Regions from separate parts of the Homo sapiens genome. Here region 1 is linked to region 2. Evidence: fine-mapped QTL for protein levels in blood plasma. Region 2 holds a variant in brackets. A gene starts in the other region. All regions are shown on their forward strands.

What was found. PIP is the posterior inclusion probability: the model's chance that the variant is causal. Protein levels are from antibody-based Olink assays in UK Biobank. Linkage for the fine-mapping came from a reference panel and not from the study's own genotypes, which makes the PIPs less certain.
Region 1: SERPIND1 starts here. The variant in region 2 is fine-mapped to the plasma level of the SERPIND1 protein (UK Biobank, PIP above 0.99).

What each region holds. Positions count from the first base shown.
Region 1 is chr22:20,771,002-20,779,001 of GRCh38, forward strand. It overlaps SERPIND1 (serpin family D member 1), which reads left to right and starts at 3,112. Exons shown (of 5, transcript NM_000185.4): 1 at 3,112-3,144. All of the region lies in intron 19 of PI4KA (phosphatidylinositol 4-kinase alpha), which reads right to left. RefSeq lists an enhancer at 6,800-7,094.
Region 2 is chr16:72,039,840-72,051,210 of GRCh38, forward strand. No RefSeq gene overlaps it. Among named protein-coding and RNA genes, the nearest start is that of HP, 9.0 kb to the right of the region's middle. The variant TG/T (reference allele first, on the strand shown) is at 5,251.

The DNA.
Region 1 (8,000 bases), not on the chromosome of region 2:
AGACCCCGCTTTTTTCTAACTAAAAAAATTTTTTTCCAAGTTGGAAAAAATATCTAGCCATAAGACAAACCTTGAAACTGCAAAAGAACAATGGAGTATGTGTGACAGGAGGTACTGCTCTACAGTGGGGTTAAAGCCATACACAAGCTGTGGTGGCTCACGCCTGTAATCCCAGCACTTTGGGAGGCCGATGCGGGCGGATCATGAGGTTAGGAGTTCAAGACCAGCCTGGCCAGCATGGTGAAACCCGTCTCTACTAAAAATACAAAACATTAGCCAGACGTGGTGGTGGGCACCTGTAGTCCCAGCTACTAGGGAGGCTGAGGCAGGAGAATGGCGTGAACCCAGGAGGCGGAGCTTGCAGTGAGCTGAGATTGCGCCACTGCACTCCAGCCTGGGCGACAGAGCGAGACTCTGTCTCAAAAAAAAAAAAGCCATACACAAGCTGTTACCACTAAATGGGAAAATGACTGAAAAATGTCAATGTCAAGAGGGACTGAAATCAAATTTTTCCAATAGTGGGTTACATGATCAGAAATCCAAATAGACAGGAAATATGTTGGCTTTATTTATTTATTTATTTATTTATTTATTTATTTAGACAGAGTCTCACTCTGTCACCCAGGCTGGAGTACAGTGGCATGAACTCGGCTCACTGCAACCTTCACCTCCCAGGTTCAAGCGATTGTCCTGCCTCAGCCTCCCGAGTAGCTGGGACTACAGATGTGTGCCACCACACCCAGCTAATTTTTGTATTTTTAGTAGGGACGGGGTTTTACCATGTTGGTCAGGCTGGTCTTGAACTCCTGACCTCAAGTGATCCACCCGCCTTGGCCTCTCAAAGTGCTGGGATTACAGGTGTGAGCCACCACACCTGGCCGGTACTGGCTTTAAAAATAACAAAAGTAATACATACACATAGAAAAAGGTCAAACAAAGAAGTACATAGAATGAAAAATGAATGCTGTGTCCCCTCCCAGACCATTTCTGTGAATAAATATGTAATACCATGAAATGATGAGGACTAACATTTTCTGAATGCCAGGCACCACTCTATGTGCTTTCCACACATTCATTAACCTCATTTAATTTTCTCATTTAATTAATGAGATAAATTAATGTATCTCATTTAATTTTCACAACAACCTCATGCAGTAGGTGTAACTGTCACCCTCATTTCAGAGAGCAGAATACTGAGAGCTGGAGGCCAAGGGGCAATTTCAGCCAGGGTGGCTGGTGACGCCTCGGTGAAACCAAGAGCGAACAGTGAGAGCAGCGGCCACCTGCTGGTCTGCAGGGATGGTGTCCTGGGCAGAAAGAATAGCAAGTGCCAGGGCTGTGCTGGGGCCGGGCTTTGCATGTGTGAGAACAAGACAGAGAATGAGGGAGGTGGGCCCACGAGGAGTGTGGGCACAGACAGCAGCCTCTGCCTGTGGTGCCACGCTGAAGACTCAGTATTGTATGTGACAGATGAAGGCTCTAAGAAGACAGCTCTGACAAAAGCTAGAGTGCAAAATCAGACTCAGACACAACCACCGGTCTGTGTCCTGAACACAATGGACCTTTACACTCTGGAATTTCTCAAACGGAGCAATGCACAGACACCCCCATGGGCCCCTTGCACACCCGCAGATTCTCCTAGGAGTCACATTCTCTCTTCAGATAGACTCTGGGTGCCGACACTCCCAAACATGCTCTTGAGGAGCAGTCTCTGTGATAAGCTGATCTTCCAGACAATCCAGAATATTCTTAAAACTTTTTAGATCATAAAATTTAAAACACAAATTAAAAAACAAATTATCATAAGGCCGGGCACAGTGACTCATGCCTGTAATCCCAGCACTTTGCAAGGCTGAAGCAGGAGGATCACTTGAGCCCAAGAGTTCAAGACCAGCCTAGGCAACATAGTGAGACCCTGTCTCTACAAAAAAGTCAAAAGTTAGCTAGACATGGTGGTGTGCACCTGTATTCCCAGCTACTTGCAGGGCTGAGGTGAGGAGGATTGCTTCAGCTCGGGAGGTTGAGGCTGCAGTGAGCCAAGATCACGCCACTGCACTCCAGCCTGGGTAACAGAGTGAGACCCTGTCTCAAAAAACACATAGGGCCAGGCGTGGTGGCTCACGCATGTAATCCCAGCACTTTGGGAGGCCGAGACGGGAGGATCACTTCACTCCAGGAGTTCAACACCAGCCTGGCCAACATAGTGAAACCCCGTCTCTACTAAAAATACAAAAAATTAGTTGGACATGGTGGTGTGCGCCTGTAATCTCAGCCACTCAGGAGGCTGAGGCAGGAGAACGCTTGAACTTGGGAGACAGAGGTTGCAGTGAGCTGAGATCGCACCACTGCACTCCAGCATGGGCAGCAGCGCGAAACTCTGTCTCAAAACAAACAAACAAACAAACAAACACCCATAAACACAAAATGTATCACAGCCTCAGAGATCCCCACGAATGCCTAAGTGGCCCTGAATTTGGGAGGCACTGCTCAGTAATAGTCCTATCTGTCCCACAACAGACAGGAGTGCTGGGCTGCACCTACTGGCAACAAACACAGCAACCCTTGACTGAAGAAAGGTCCATGCCACAATCCCCTTATTCTGTAAGCCACTAATTTTGTCCTCTCTCCTCCACCTTTCACTGAGGAACGAGCTCTTGGAAGGACAGGGACACCCGCCTAGTAGCTGAGCCAGCCACATCAGTCCTGGAGAGCAGGTGGAGGGCAGATGCTGTGATCATCCCAGAAGAGAGGACACAGTTGGAGGCAGATGCATGGTCTCTACTTTCAGCTACCCTCAATGCAGCCTGGTCCCCAGAGGCCTGAAGAGCGCCTTGTTTATGTGGTGACCTCAAGAGGGGCTGCTCCTGCACCAAGGCTATGTGTGCATGCTAACACAGTAACCGTCATATACTCAAAGTGTCAGCTCTAAGAACTGGAGATGAGGAGCTGCAAGCCACTCTACAGTTATCAAAGGCACAGCTGAGGGGGTTTGTGCTGACCAAGCTGGTTGCCTGGTGTTTGGATTGGGACTTATTTACTTTGGAAAATATGCAGCAACAGCCCAGCACCAAAGTTCACATCAAAATCCCACTGATGACCTTGGCTGCTTTCATCTCTGAAGCGCCACTTCTCAGAAACACAGAGGTAAGTTGGGTTTCTAATGTTTCTGCTGATTATAAATTATTTTTGGTGTTTACGGATAGGCAACTGGTTCATTTTTCTAGCAAACTAAGAATTCAGAAGCTTTCTACACTGTTTTAGAAGTGGGAAATGGTTTCATTTTTCAGTGTGCCTATTATAAAATTGTGTCAGTTCCATTGTTGGGAGAGTTGACAAACTTAGAATAGGAGCTGTGGAATAGATGAAAATATTGTACTTATATTAAATTAATCGAATTGGATAACTGTCCTGTGATTATGTATGAGAATATCCTTGCTCTTGGGTATTTTCCCTGAAGTATTAGTATTAAAGGTTAGAGGGGCCGGGTGCAGTGGCTCACGCCTGTAATCCCAACACTTTGGGAGGCCGAGGCGGGTGGATCACGAGGTCAGGAGTTCAAGACCAGCCTGACCAACATGGTGAAGCCAAGTCTCTACTAAAAATACAAAAATTAGCTGGGCGTGGTGGCACGCGCCTGTAATCCCAGCTACTCAGGAGGCTGAGGCAGGAGAATCGCTTAAACCCGGGAGGCAGAGGTTGCAGTGAGCGGAGATCGTGCCACTGCACTCCAGCCTGGACAACAGAGTTAGACTCCGTCAAAAAAAAAAAAAAAAAGAAGAAAAAAGAAAAAATGTTAGAGGAACAAGATATAGGAGACCTACTCTCAAATGGTCTAGAAGAAAAAATGTGTATGTGCATGCCTGTGAGAACACACACGTACGTACACACACACACAGATAATGACAGGGCAAAGGTTCCAAAATTTTAAACCTGGTAAATCTCGGTACGGGTATACAGGAGTTGTTCTACTACACTATTCTTTCAACATTTTTGGAAGTTTGAACTTACTTCAAAATAAAAAGTTTTCCAAACTTTAGGCAGTTACTTCTCTCCCATTCTGCCTGCTCTGTTGGGCCTGGAGACCATACACCAGGAGGGATGACGGTTTATCAAGTGTTATGCTCTGATGCGTGACTGAAAAGGCCAACCCAGCTCTGGCAATTAGCAAGAAAGCACAATATGAAGTTCCCAGGAAAAAAAAAAAGCAAAACAAACTTTTGAATGATTTATCTTTAAAATATATTGTTTCTCTTCAAACAGTAATCTGGATTTAATCACAACCTAGTGATAGTTTTTAAACGTCTTCTACAATGTTTGTTATACTAAATAGCAAAACATCAGGAAGATTTACCTTCAGATCTTTAATTTCAATCCATAAAAGATATCAGAGATATTTTCTCCTTCCTCTGGTAAGGGAATGACGAAAACTATTTTTGGCTTTTTATCAGATAATGTGGGAACAGGGTATAAGAAGTTTCCAAATATAACTTCTGAATACCGGGATAAAACATGCATGTCTTTACTCTGCCACTCTATCTGGCCTCAGATACGTTTTCCTGAATGCTTATTTATTCAAGTTGGTTTTTGTTTTGTTCTTTAACCTTATTTTTATCTGAGAAGAAAACATTTTCCCCCTTTGTTCCTTCTTCTTTTGGCTTTCTTTTTTAAAATAGAGATGAGGTCTTGCTATGTTGCTCCAGCTGGTCTTGAACTCCTGGGCTCAAGCGATCCTCCTGCCTTGGCCTCCCAAGATGCTAAGATTACAGGTGTGAGCCCCTATGCCTGGTCTTCTTCTTCTTGATCTTAGCCAAAAGGCCAAGAAGTGATAAGAGGAGGACACTTGAAGTGTAGTTGGGCAAGGAGCCTTCTACCAGCTGCTTACTTTCTTTGTTCCTGACTTTTAAAAGTGTGTTGCTATTGATACACAGTCTCCTGATATGTAAAATGCTGGGAGGATGAAGCTAAGTTACTCAAAGTGCCATTCAGAAACTGGGCCCAGTTCTATTTGCAGCTACATACATTAGAAATCATTTCTAGAGGCTGAGCATGGTAACTCATACCTGTAATTCCAGCACTTTGGGAGGCCAAGGCAGGAGAATTGCCTGAGCTCAGGAGTTTGAGACCTGTCTGGGCAACATGGTAAAACCCCATCTTTACCAAAAACACAAAAAATTAACTGGGTTTGGTGGCACACACCTGTGGTCCCAGCTACTTCAAAAGGCTGAGGTGGGAGGGTCTCTTGAGCCTGAGAGGAACAGGTGGCAGTGAACCAATATTGTGCCACTGCACTCCAGCCTGGGTGACAGAGTGAGACCCCGCCGTCTCAAAATAAAAATAAAAAGAAATCGTTTCTAGAAACTGTTTTCCCGTGTGTAAACTAGTGGCACTGCAGCCTGAGGCAGGTGCTGAGATGGGGACCTGGAAAAGGCAACAGGCATTTTGAGTCAGAAACAATGTGACTTTCCTGCTCCAAAATGTGCAATTCAAAAGTCTTTCTTAGTTGTGACTAAAACAAACTTTGAACTTACTATTTCAACAGTATTATAAGGGGAAGACCCAAGGAATGGGACTGGCACTGGGAAAACAGCTAGGAAGCTGCTCTGCACGGCCAGGGAGTCTGGAAGCATCCTGGTACTCCAGAGCGAACAAGGCTGAGCGCTTGATGTGGGGCTTAGAGGCTTAACCAACTTGGTTCGAATCTAGCCACTGCCACTTATTAGTGACAGTGACGAAAGGCTCAGTCTCCTGATATATAAAATGTTGGGAGGATGAAACTAAGTTACACGAAGTGCCTTATACAGCGTGTCAGGCATCCAACAGAGGCCATTATCAACATTAACCACACTGACAGCATTTCAAGCAGAGTATCCGAACAGTTACCCCATCTTCAGGCCTACTGAGTTCAAATATTTGCTTAACAAGAGCAGCCAGTAACTCTTACCTGGCCTCAACTGGCAGCAGATATTCTGGGCCTCAAATATCTATCTAATAGGAAATGGTCACAGACACAAAATAAGCTTAACAAAAGGCAGTTTTTTTTTGTTTTTTTTTTGTTTTCTGTTTTTTGAGATAAGGACTCACTCTATCCCCCAGGTTGGAGTGCAGTAGTGGCGTGATCACGGCTCACTGCAGACTCAAGTGATCCTCCTACTTCAGCCTCTCAAGTAGATGGGACCACAGGCGTGTGCCATCACACCAGGCTAATTATTTTTCTTTTCTTTTTTTTTTTTTTGAGACGGAGTTTCGCTCTTTTTGCCCAGGCTGGAGTGCAATGGTGCGATCTTGGCTCACCACAACCTCTGCCTCCTGAATTCAAACGAATCTCCTGCCTCAGCCTCCTAAGTATCTGGGATTACAGGCATGCGCCACCACGCCGGCTAATTTTTTTGTATTTTTTGTAGAGACAGGGTTTCTCCATGTTGGCCAGGCTGGTCTCGAACTCCCGACCTCAGATGATCCGCCCACCTCGGCCTCCCAAAGTGCTGGGATTACTGACCTGAGCCACCGCACCCAGCCTATTTATTTAATTTTTCACAGAGATGAGGTCTTGCTATGTTGCCCACACTGGTCTTGAGCTCCTGGGCTCAAGTGATCTTCCTGCCTTGGTCTCCCAGTGTTGGGATTATAGGCGTAAGCCACAGCGCCTGGCCGGCAGTTCTTTCTGGGGTGATTAGAAGTTGGGACCATGTATTACCTGTCTGAGTCAGCATTATAAACACCTATGGTCACTGTCCTGGCAAAACATGGAATCATCAAAGCTCATCTAACCAGAGTGCAGTTAATAACCAGGAAGTAAGCAAGAGAAAGACAAAGGATTTGGCAGTCAAAACAGATTTGACAGGCCAAGTCAGATCCTCCTCTGAACGAGTCAGAGGAACAAATAAAGACAGGATTGCCATAATGCCTCTGTGCTAAAAGCTTATCTTGTTTACTTAAATAAAGGGAGTGCCCCTCAGGTCTTGAGTAAGAGCTTGCTGACATCACCCTCACACAGACTTTATCTCTTGTTTCTAACCCTGTGTTAGAAGCAGTAACACAGAAGATTTAGTTGCTCCTGACAGCAGTGGGAGCTATTGTCTAAGAGATACAAAGGAGAAAAAAGTATACCTGCAGCAAGTGATATCACCTCTGGGGCTGCCACCACATCACCTCACTACGCCCTGAGGGGGTCTCAGCACTAGACAAGTTCCAAATCTTTTGCAAATTAAACAACCCCAGGTCAGGCGTGGTGGCTTATGCCTGTAATCCCAGCACTTTGGGGGGCTGAGGTGGGTGGATCACCTGAGGTCAGGAGTTTGAGACCAGCCTGGCCAACAGAGCAAAACCCCATCTCTACTAAACAAAATACAAAAATTAACCAGGCGTAGTGGTGTGCACCTGTAGTCCCAGCTACTTGGGAGGCTGAGGCAAGAGAATTGCTTGAGTCCAGGAGGCCGAAGTTGCAGTAAGCCGAGATCGCGCCACTGCACTCCAGCCTGGGTGACAGAGTGAGACTCCATTTCAAAAAATAAAAACAACAAAAGCCAATTACAACAACAACAACAAAAAAACAACGAATTAAACAACCCCAAAGATTGCACAAATTTCAAGTATCTTTAGAATATGTTTTCAGAAAGCCTGGCCCATGGACATTTTTCAACAGCATCTCCATTGCAAAGGTGGAATGGTGTGAGTCACACAGGCATGGCTGAGTCCCACTAATGCACATCCCTTCTAGGTACTCTCCAATCACCAGCCCCAGGTGCCCACTCAAGCCCAGCTCTTAGTGAGGTTTCCCTGACTCTCTGGGCACTTCCACTCCTACCACACAGGGTAGAGCCACACCCCTTTCCGTACCCCCATGTGCTCTGGCAGCATTATTTTGAGAGCCTTCGCTTTACTGCACGTCTGTCCCATCTGTCCCCTGACTGGTCCATGAGCCCCTGGTGGGAACTTTGTCTCTGGTAACTAAACACTGTCTGGAGGTGGTGGACAAGGTGTCTGGAGAAAAACAAACTCCT
Region 2 (11,371 bases):
AGGCAGGAGAATTGCTTGAACCTGGGAGGCAGAGGCTACACTGAGCCAGGATTGTGCCACTGCACTCCAGCCTGGGTGACAGAGCAAGACTCTGTCTCAAAAAAAAGAAAATTTAGATATACAGAAAATCAGAAAGAATAGTATAATAGATATCCATACTCCTTCCACCTACACTCAGTAATTCTTACTATCTTTTCCCTGTTGGCTCTGCCAATCTTTTAACCTATTTTTATTGTGTATTTTGATTCACTCCTAAGTACTTTGTAACCTGCATTATCTAAGTACATGCTCCTATGTAACCATAAGTCTATAATCACACATAAGAGAATTAACCATGATTTGCTAATATCATCTAACACTGAGTTCGTGTTCAAATTTCTCCTGTTGTATCCAAAATATCTTCCATATCCAATCAACGCTCATCCATATGCCTCTTTAGTTTCTTTTATTTCTTTTATTTTATTTTATTTATTTTTATTTTTTGAGACGGAGTCTCGCTCTGTTGCCCAGGCTGGAGTGCAGTGGAGCGATCTCGGCTCACTGCAAGCTCCGCCTCCTGCGTTCACGCCACTCTTCTGCCTCAGCCTCCCGAGTAGCTGGGACTACAGGCGCCTGCCACTACGCCTGGCTAATTTTTTGTATTTTTTAGTAGAGATGGGGTTTCACTGTGTTAGCCAGGATGGTCTTGATCTCCTGACCTCATGATCCACCAGCCTTGGCCTCCCAGAGTGCTGGGATTACAGGCATGAGCCACTGTGCCCGGCCTATTTTTTTTTTTTTTTTTTGAGAGGGAGTCTCACTCTGTTGCCCAGGCTGGAGTGCAATGCGCAATCTCTGCTCACTGCAACCTCCACCTCCTGGGTTCAAGCGATTCTCCTGCCTCAGCTTCCCGAGTAGCTGGGATTACAGGCGGCTGCCACCACACCCAGCTAATTTTTTTTGTATTTTTAGTAGAGACAGGGTTTCACCATGCTGGCCAGCTGGTCTCAAACTCCTGACCTCAGGTGATCCGCCCACCTTGGCCTGCCAAAGTGCTGGGATTACAGGCATTGAGCCACCGCACCCAGCTAGTTTCTTTTAATCTAGAACAGTAACCTCTCATGAGATCAGTCCAGTTATCTTGTAGATGGCTGTTTTAGTCTATTCTCATGCTGCTAATAAAGACATACCTGAGACTGGGTAATTTATAAAGGAAAGAGGTTTAATTGACTCACAGTTCAGCATGGCTGGGGAGTTCTCAGGAAACTTACAATCATGGTGGAAGGGGGAAGCAAACATGTTCTTCTTCACATGGCGGCAGACTGAGAAGTGCAGAGTGAAGGTCGGGGGAAAGCCCCTTATAAAACCATCAGATCTCATGAGAACTCACTATCATGAGAACAGCATGAGGATAACTGCCCCCTGATTCAATTACCTTCCACCAGGTCCCTTCCATGACATGTGGGGATTATGGGAACTACAATTCAAGATAAGATTTTGGTGGGGACACAGCCAAACCATATCAATGGTTCCATGTTCTGGATTCCCAGCATAAAGACATTTCCTGATTTCCAGTATAGTTGGATGTGGTCCAGTGACCAAGTTCTATTCAATGACATATATATGAAAGTATTGTGTGAAGTTTCTGGAAAGTCTGCTGCTGCCTGGAATATGGGTATGATGGCTGGAGCTCTGGCATCCATTTTAGACCTAAGGATCAGGGTCATTCTGCAGGGATGATGGAGGCAAAAGCTGGAAACAGCTTAATGCTGACACTAATACCAGCTCTGTCTGCCTACTTCCCTACCTCTTTTACTTGAGAAAACAGAACCTTGTGTATGTGTGTGTGTGTGTGTAATTAAAAATTAAAAAAAAATTTTTTAGACGAGGTCTCACTTGCTCTGTCACCCAGGCTGGAGTACACTGGCATGATCATGGCTCACTGCAGCCTCAATCTCCTGGGCTCAAGTGATCCTCCCACCTCAGCCTCCAGAGCATCTGGGACTACAGGTGTGTGCCACCACACCTGGCTAATTTTTGTATTTTTTGTAGGCATGGGGTTTCACTCTGTTGCCCAGGCTGGGACCTTGTGTGCTTTAATCCCTGTTAAGTCACTTAGTCAAATTTAATCCTAGCTAATAAAGAAGACAGATTGAGGTCTACTATAGTTTTATATTTGCTTGGAAGAGATGTTATGTGCTTACTACTTGGCTAAAACATGTTTCAGGATTTCTCTTTTTCCTCCAGGTACAGACCTCCGGTCCCAACACACCATAAGAACATTCTGAGATGATAATGTTACCTACCCTCTAGTCTGGGCCACCTATGATGTTGAATGAGTCTTGGCAGCCAGGGAAAATTTCTGTAAGAGCCTTGTGGTTAGACACATAGGAAATAAAGTCACTGTGGCTTGTCACATGCAAGAGGACAGCAGGGGACAGGGCATAGCGCTGTGTGTGCAGGAACAGTGTGGGAATGATCTGGAATTTGTGAAATACCTGGGCAGCAATACAAGGACGAGGCTCCAAAGGGCAGGGCTTCAGGAGAGGAAATGGATAAACACTGCACTTCTTGCATTACTGCCAGCCACAAAGAGGTTTCCTGAGTGCTGAAAACCCCATCTGGAAAGTGTCCCATAGGAAACAAAAGGAGTTACAGTGTGTGAAGGTCACTTGGCTGCTGCACCACCTGCCACCCCATTAATCACTTGAGTTGGTGGGTACAGGAACAAAGCTGTGGGCAGAGGGTCAGAACACTTCCTGTCTGCCCCAGGCACATGGAAGACATTCTCCTGAGTAGTAACCTTGGCACTGCCTTGGCTATTTGAGAAGCTGGCCAGTTACGTATTTCAGTCACTGGGTATTTGAGAAGCTGGCCAGTCTTTTGAGCTTCAACCATTCTCACAGATGTTGAATTTGCAGTTCTTAATGGATCTAGTGACACCTTCCTACCTCAGTAGAGCAAAAAATGTGGATCCCAGGTCTGGGAACCTAAAAGAAATCACTCTGAGTAGGTTAGAATTTCACCTCTATCTGAGACCCTGACAGAATCATTTAAAAATAAAAACACATATATACAAATATCTATACACACATAGGTGTGTGTGTGTGAATAGGGTGGCCCACCTTCATGTTCTTTTACTCCCTTGTTCTTCCAGTCATTCACTGAGATGCTGAGTTTTCCAGCATCTCTCAGTCTCTCAGAAGAACCGCCTGCCAGCATCCAGTGGGTCACATCCTACGACAAGCCCAGCACCTCTTCAGTGGAAGGGGATTTGCTTTGCGGCTTGGCAAGTTTATGCAAGTCCCTGATTTCTTGCACTGACTGCTGAAAAGCAGAGCTCCATTTAAATTCCATTCCTTCTGAAGATCTGTCCTATGACCAGGGTGCATGGTTCAACTCCTCTCTGCATCTGGCTGGCACCCAGGGCACTCTTGCCCAAATGCTTTGTCAGGTAGTTTACTTGATCTGTTTCCTAACGTGCTTCCCAGCCATGGTCCACATGGTTTCAGACTGCTCCAGGGCCCCCAAGGCCAACACAGGGGTCATGCTTGGAGAAAACCTTCAATTCTTTGCAGCCTCAGGCTTCTCCAGCCTTGGGTGCCAGTGCTTTAAGGTCCTCCTTATCCTCTTTGCTGGGCATCACTGCCTCAGTCATGGTTTAAATCTGATACACAAGGTTCTTAATGGGCCTCCATAGCCATGTACAATTGACACCCTTAGCCTGGCTAATGTGGTTAGCTAGCAAGTTTGTTATCCCTTCCAGGTAAGAAATGCCTTAACCCAGTGAAAGATCTGTCTCCAGATGACCCTTAAAAGTGACTCTAATGGTGAGCCCTTGATGCTGATTATGTGAGGGAATCTTTTTTATTTTATTTTTGAGACAGGGTCTTGATCTGTTGCCCAGGCTGGAGTACAGTGGCGCAATCAGAGCTCACTGCAGCCTCTCCCAGGCTCAAGTGATCCTCCCCACTCAGTCCCCTGAGTAGCTGGAACTATAGGTGCATACCACTATGCCTGGCTAACTTCTTATTTTTTTATTTTTGTAGAGATGGATCTCCCTATGTTGCCCAGGCTCACCTTGAACTCTTGGCTTCAAGCAATCCTCCAGCATGTCCTCCCAAGTGCTGGGATTATAGGCATGAGCCACTGTGCCCAGCACATGTGAGGGAGTCTTGAGAATTCTGTGTAGTTTGTCATGTGGGAGAGGTAGCACCCCAGGGTGGTCAAGGGCTTGGCCTGGGTTTGAATCCTGGCTCCTCTCTTTGCTAGCTGTGTTACCTTGAACAAGTTCCTTATCCTCTCTGTGCCCCATTTATAAAAAACGGGATTATTAGATAATAAAAAGACCCAATGCTTATGGGCTGTTGAAGAATTAAATGAGTAAATACACAGAAAGCACATAGCACAGTGCCTGGCACACAGAACCCTCCCAATGTTACCTGTTATTACTAGGAGTTGACTGGCTTTTCTCCTAAAGTACCTGCAGGGCTGGTTCTGCGGACAGCTTTTATGCTTCTGAGGGCTGGATCTTCTCCACTGCAGACAGAAGATGACAATACAGGCATTACTTACTCGTGTTACAGTTTTTATTTCTGCCCCTATTCTGAACTCTTTGAAGGCAGAGGCTATGTTTATCCCCCATTCAATTCAACCAACCGGACTGAGCCTCTGTTGTATGCCAGGCATTGCTGGGCCATGGAGATAAGGGTGAATGAAAAAACACCGACTTGGTCCTACCTTGTTTCCTGGGACCCATCCCACAAACGTGGTAGGTTGAAGAAATTAAGGAAGGTTGATATGAATTCTTTTGAATATAGAGTCAGTTTTTACACTCGTACTAATATCCTCATGCCTTTGACATCTGACCAGTTTCATGCTGGGAAAGGCAGCATTTCTTTGTAAGTTTTGACAGGCTGTGTGGGTTTCCCACCTTGGTTGGCTGTCTTTGCTGACAGGAAGCTGGTCTGAGGATAATATTTGATTTAGCAGCCTGGATCTTGGAAGTTCCTCATTTACAAACTGTCAGGGATGATCCTACTTTTAAGAAGCTCTTAAAAAGCTTAAAATATCAATGTGTATGGTACAAAATATCAATATGTGTGTCTGCCAGTGGCTCAGTTTTGGAGAAGAGAATTGCTGACCGTAAGGCAGTGCAACTGGGAAGCAATGCCTATGTTCCAGGCACCGTGGGACCCTGTAGCCCCTGGTCCTGGTGACTGTGAAAAAAAGGAGAAATTCTAGAAATAGGTGTAATCATGTGAATGTCTT[TG/T]TTTAATTTTCTTATCAAGATAAACTGCAATTCTGAACAACATGTGCTGTTCTGAATTCAACAGTCCACTCTCCATTCTGTTTGAAGGTCATGTATACTCTTGTGAAAATCCAGGGTTCTCATTTCATGGCTACTGAGGTATTTATTCCTATACTATTTAAATCAATTAAAAAATATCATTTACAATAACATAAACATCAAATGCTTAAGAATAAATCTAATGAAAGAGGTGCCAGAGGTCTGTATCAATATGAACAAGGCATTAAAATTAAAGACAGCCTAAATAAATGAAGAGAGATGCTACGTGCATTACTCGAAAGACTCAACAGAGTCAAGATGTCAACTCTCCCCAAAGTGATCTGGAGATTCAATGTAATCCCAATAAAAATCCCATCAGGACATTTTGTGAGAATTGGAAAGTTGATTTTAAAATTTACATAAAATGGAAAAGACCTAGAATAGTCAAGACAAACTCTGAAAGAAAATAAAGTTGGAACACTTATAATACCAGATAGCAAGATTTAGTATAAAGTTCCCATTATTGGCCAGGTGTGGAGGCTCATGCCTGTAATGCCAGCACTTTAGGAAGCTGAGGTGGGTGGATCACTTGAGCCCAAGAGTTCAAGTCCAGCCTGGTCAACATGGCAAAACCACATCTCTACAACTACAACAACAACAAGTTGGCTGTGTGTGGTTGCGCATACCTGTAGTCTCAGTTACCTGTGAGGCTGAGGTGGGAGGATTGTTGGAGATCATTGTTGAGGCTGCAGATTGTGTCCCTGCACTCCTGCCTGGGGGACAGTGAGACCCTGTCTCAAAAAAAGTTCCCATTTGTGAACCCCCAAAATTTGAGACAGGTTTCGGTTAATTTAGAAAGCTTATTTTGCCAAGGTTGAGGACGCACACCCAACACAACCTCAGGAGGTCCTGATATATGTCCAAGGCGGTCAGAGCACAGTTTGGTTTTATACATTTTAGGGAGACCTGAGACATCAATCAACATACGTAAGATGAACACTGGTTCCGTCCGCAGAGGCGGGACAAGTCTCAAAGCCAGGAGGGGGCTTCCAGGTCATAGGTAGATAAGAGACAAATGGTTACATTCTTTTGAGGTTCTGATGAGCCTCTCCAAAAGAGGCAAAAGGATATGCATTTATCTCAGTGAGCAGAGGGGTGGCATTGAATAGAATGGGAGGCAGGTTTGCCCTAAGCAGTTCTCTGCTTCACTTTTCCCTTTAGCTTAGTGATTCTGGGGGTTTAAGATAGTTTCCTTTCACACATTATTATTATTATTATTATTATTATTATTTATTTTTTTATTTTTATTTTTTGAGACAGAATCTCGTTCTGTCGCCCAGGCTGGAGTGCAGTGGCGCGATCTCAGCTCACTGCAACTTCCGCCTTCCGGGTTCAAGCGATTCCCCTGCCTCAGCCTCCGAGTAGCTGGGACTACAGGCGCCCGCCACCATGCCCAGCTAATTTTTTGTACTTTAGTAGGGATGGGGTTTCACCATGTTGGCCAGAATGATCTCGATCTCCTGACCTCGTGATCCACCCGCCTCGGCCTCCCAAAATGCTGGGATTACAGGCGTGAGCCACCGCACCCAACCTCCTTTCACACATTATTAAGACAGTATGACAATGGCTCCAGATTAGACAAATAGACTAATGGAAAAGAATAGAGGATTCAGGAGGAGGCCAACACATATATAATCACCTGATGTATAATAAAGATACCACTGGAATTCAGGGACAAAGGATGGTCATTTTAGCAAATAATACTGGATCGATTGCATGCCTATATGGAAAAAATGAACTTTTCTCTCACATCCTATACCAACATTAATTCCAAATGGATCATAGACCTAGATTTGAAAGGTAAAACAATACACTTTTAGAAAAACATATAGGAGAATATTGTCACAACCTTGTAGGCAAAAATTTCTTAATCAGAACACAGAAATCACTAACTATGAAATTTAAAAAACTGACAAATTAGGACTTATTTAAGATTAAGAACTTCTGTACTTCTGTTCATCAAAATACAAGATTAAAAGAATTAAAGGACAAACCATGGAATGGGAGAACATGTTTACAATACATTTATCCAAAAAAAGACTAGTATTCAGAATATTTTAGAAAAAGACAACAAATCTACAAGGAGAAGACATACTGTAAAGAGGATATCTAAGTGGTCCAACACAAATCTAAAAAGTGGTCTACATCATTTGATATTGGGGAAATGCAAAATTAAAGCCATTATTATTATTTTTATTTATTTATTTATTTTTTGAGATGGAGTCTTGCTCTTTCCCCCAGGCTGAAGTGCAGTGGTGCGATCTCAGTTCACTGCAACCTCTGCCCCCAGGTTCAAACGATTCTCCTGCCTCAGTCTCCTGAGTAGCTGGGACTACAGGCCCATGCCACCACACCCGGCTGATTTTTGTATTTTTAGTAGAGACGGGGTTTCGCTGTGTTGGCCAGGCTGGTCTCGAACTCCTGACCTCAGGTGATCCACCTGCCTTGGCCTCCCAAAGTGCTAGGATTACAGGCGTGAGCCACTGTGCCTGGCCTCCATTATTATGTTTTACTACACATATGCAGAATGGCAAAACTTAAAAAGTATTGGCAAGGATGCAGAGCAACTGGAACTTTGATATACTGATGATAGGAGAGTTTATTGAAAAACTGGTAGAATCTATTAAAGCTAGACATATGCCTACCCTATGACAAAACCAGGTACGTATCCAAGAGAAATGAATGCAGGTAACCACCAAACAATATATGCAAGAATGTTCATAGCAGCTTGGTTTGCAGTAGCCCCCGGATGGAATCAATCCACACATCCATCTACAGGAGAATGGATAAATCAATTGTGCTTTAGTCACACAATGGAATACTTCTCAGCAATAAAAAAAGAAACTAATGTGACAACATGGATGTTTCTCACAGACATTATGTTGAAAAAACAAGCCAGAAACCAAGAATGCCTACTATTTGATTCTATTTATACAAAGTTCAGGACCAGGCAAAAGTATTCCATCATGACAGATGTCAGGACAGTGGTTACTTTGGTAGGGGTGGGGTGTGGGCTGAGAGGAACCCAAAGGAGTTTTCTGGGGTGCTAGAAATATTTCATACTATAAAGATTCATTGAGATGAACACTTAAGGTTTGGTATTTTTAGTAAATGATGCTGGATCAATTGTACATCCAAATGGAGTAAAATGAGTGTGGTCTCCTTACCTCACTTCCCTGTGTGTATGCAAGCTATTTATAACAGTAAAATTAAAGTACATGTGATACCTCCTTAAGTTAGGAGTATAATATAGCATTTAAGATTTTTTTTTTTTTTTTTTTTTTTGAGACAGAGTCTCGCTCTGTCACCCAGGCTGGAGTGCAGTGGCGCGATCTTGGCTCACTGCAACCTCCGCCCCCCAGGTTCAAGTGATTCTCCTGCCTCAGCCTCCTGAGTAGCTGGGATTACAGGCGCACGCCATCACACCTGGCTAATTTTTGTATTTTTAGTAGGATGGGGTTTCACCATGTTGGTCAGCCTGGTCTCAAACTCCTGACCTCGTGATCTGCCTGCCACGGCCTCCCAAAGTGCTGGGATTACAGGTGTGAGCCACCGTGCCTGGCCTAAAATGTTTTAAGAGTTTTCTACAACATGGAAAATGCCTACAACATTGGGTGATGTAGAAAGCAAAAAGTTCCTCTTCAAAATTTCCCTTCTTGTTAAAGAATAAATCATAAGTGTTAGAGATAATAGTTTCTTTTAAAAACTAACTTCCTTCAAACTTCCTTGCTTTGTGCTAATAACTCTTTGTTAAGCCCTATCCTATGTAGTTATTAAATGTAAGAAAATTAAATACATTCTATGTCCCTGTACTTTAACCAAGATATCTGTGCTAGACCTGTGCACAGGCATGTCACAGCTTGCAGCCTATGCCCCTTCCTTATTTGGGAATGTTATTACTTTTCTGAGTCTTTTCATAAGCAACTTCCTCTTTTCCTTTCTTCTCCTCTGCCATTACCTCTTTAGAAAAAGTTTTAAACCTTTAGCCAACTGGGTGCTGCCTAGACTGTCAGGTCCAGTTCCAGCCAATGGAATCAGGACACAGCAGTAGGGTCTGGATGGGTCAGATATAAATGTTTTGTACCTCCTTTGTTCAAGTGTGCTCTTGTCTTTGTTCCATCTGTGATGGGCACCCTTTCTGCAGAAAGTAAAAATTGCCTTGCTGAGAGAATTAAATTTATGTTCAAGTGCTATTTCTTTATGGCACTGGGGAACAAGCATTTTGCATTTCTAACAGATGAAAAGGTTAGGCCAAAAAATTCTATATAAAGAATGATCAAAATTGTGTAAAAGTATGCACAGAGAAAATCTGAAAGGAAGTAACACTAAAATGTTAATAGTGGTTATTGGTTGTCTTGAGGTGGTGAAATTATCGGAGACTTATTTCTTATTTTTATTTTTTGGTAGCTTATAAAATTTCAAGACTTTTGTAATGGCAGAGTAAACTTTTTGTTTTTTTGAGACAGGGTCTCACTGTCACCCAGGCTGAAGTGCAGTGGCATGATCATAGCTCACTACAGCCTCAACTCCCAGGTGCAAGCAATCCTCCCACCTCAGCCTCCAGAGTAGCTGGGACTACAGGCATGTGCCACTGTTCTTGGATAATTTTTTACGTATTTTCTGTAGAGACGGAGTTTTACCATGTTGCCCATTTTATTCCATATGGTCTCCAACTCTTGGGCTCAAGCAATCGACCCGCCTTGGCCTCCCAAAGCACTGGGATTACAGGCATGAGCCACTATGCCTGGCTGGCAGAGTGAACTTTTAAAAATCATATTTTCCTTCTAAAATCAAAACTCTCCCCTTCAAGCTCCTCTGTCAACTGCTGTCCTGGCCTATTAATATTTCAAGCTTTCCTGCTTTCTATTCTCCCAAGAAAATATATGCCTACTTTCCTTGGTGGAGTCTTCTGACTTGCTATCTCCCATCTTGACTTGTCCAGTGATAGAGAGAAGCCTTTTGGGCTGGATTCTGTTTCTCCTCAAGTTAATGAAAGATGCCCAGGGCAGGAAGGCTGTGTGTGAATGCTCCCCTGTTGCCCAAGACAAGGGGTCAGAGTAATAGAGTTCAGGGTATGTTCAGAGGAGGAACGTGAATTTTCACGTACCTGGTGAGTAAACAATTGTTCTACAAAAGTGGTGAGAAATGTTTCATTTTAGACACCCTAGGAGGGCACCAGTCTGAGGAGGAAGTCTCTCCCTCCATTTCATAGGACCAGCATTCTCCCCACTTCCCTGAGGACCCACAGAGCTGCAGAAATAGAGGCCATCTCTTCCCTCTGTGGAAAAGTAGCAGCAACTGGACAGAAAAGAAAAAAGAAGCCTGGGGCTGTGACATTTGCAAGACTCTAGATAGAGGACTGTGAGAGGCTGAGATTTGACAGTTTCTGTGGGGAGGGATGATGGACTGGATGAGGTGGGAGGGGGAGGAGGGCATGAGGATGCCATAGGACAGAAGTGCTCCAGGTTTAGTGGAATCCTTCACAGTCTACAGTGCGGGTTCTCTTTGGAAAACGTAGGGTGTAGCTCCCTCCTTCTGGCCATTGAAGGAAGACCTGGGTGGCAAAGCACAGGTAAAGACAAGCTGTGACAGAGGATAGCAGGAACCCAGGGACCTAGGGAGCAGAATTCTAACACCTTCACCCCAGATTCAGCCAGAGCAGCTCCATTTCCATCATTGCACACACCAGTTCTACTGGTTAACATCTGCTACCTATGAGTGTTCCTCACGCTTTGTAGCTTAGGACAGTCATCTTCTATTTAGCTTATGATTCTGTGGGTCAGCAATGTGGGCTGGGCTTAGCTGGAGGTGGTTTTGGTCAGGATCAGTTTCAGCTGATCTTGGCAGGAGCTCACTCATGCATCTGTGGAGGACTTCTGGAAATTTGGGGCTGGCTGTCTGTCAGCTGGAATGCCTGGGTTCCACTCTATGGGGACCTTTCATTCTCCAGCAATGGAGGAATAACTTGGGCTCATTCACAGGGTAGCCCCCAGATTCCGGGTGCTGTAAAAGCAGTCAAACCCCAATTCACAAGCATGTTTC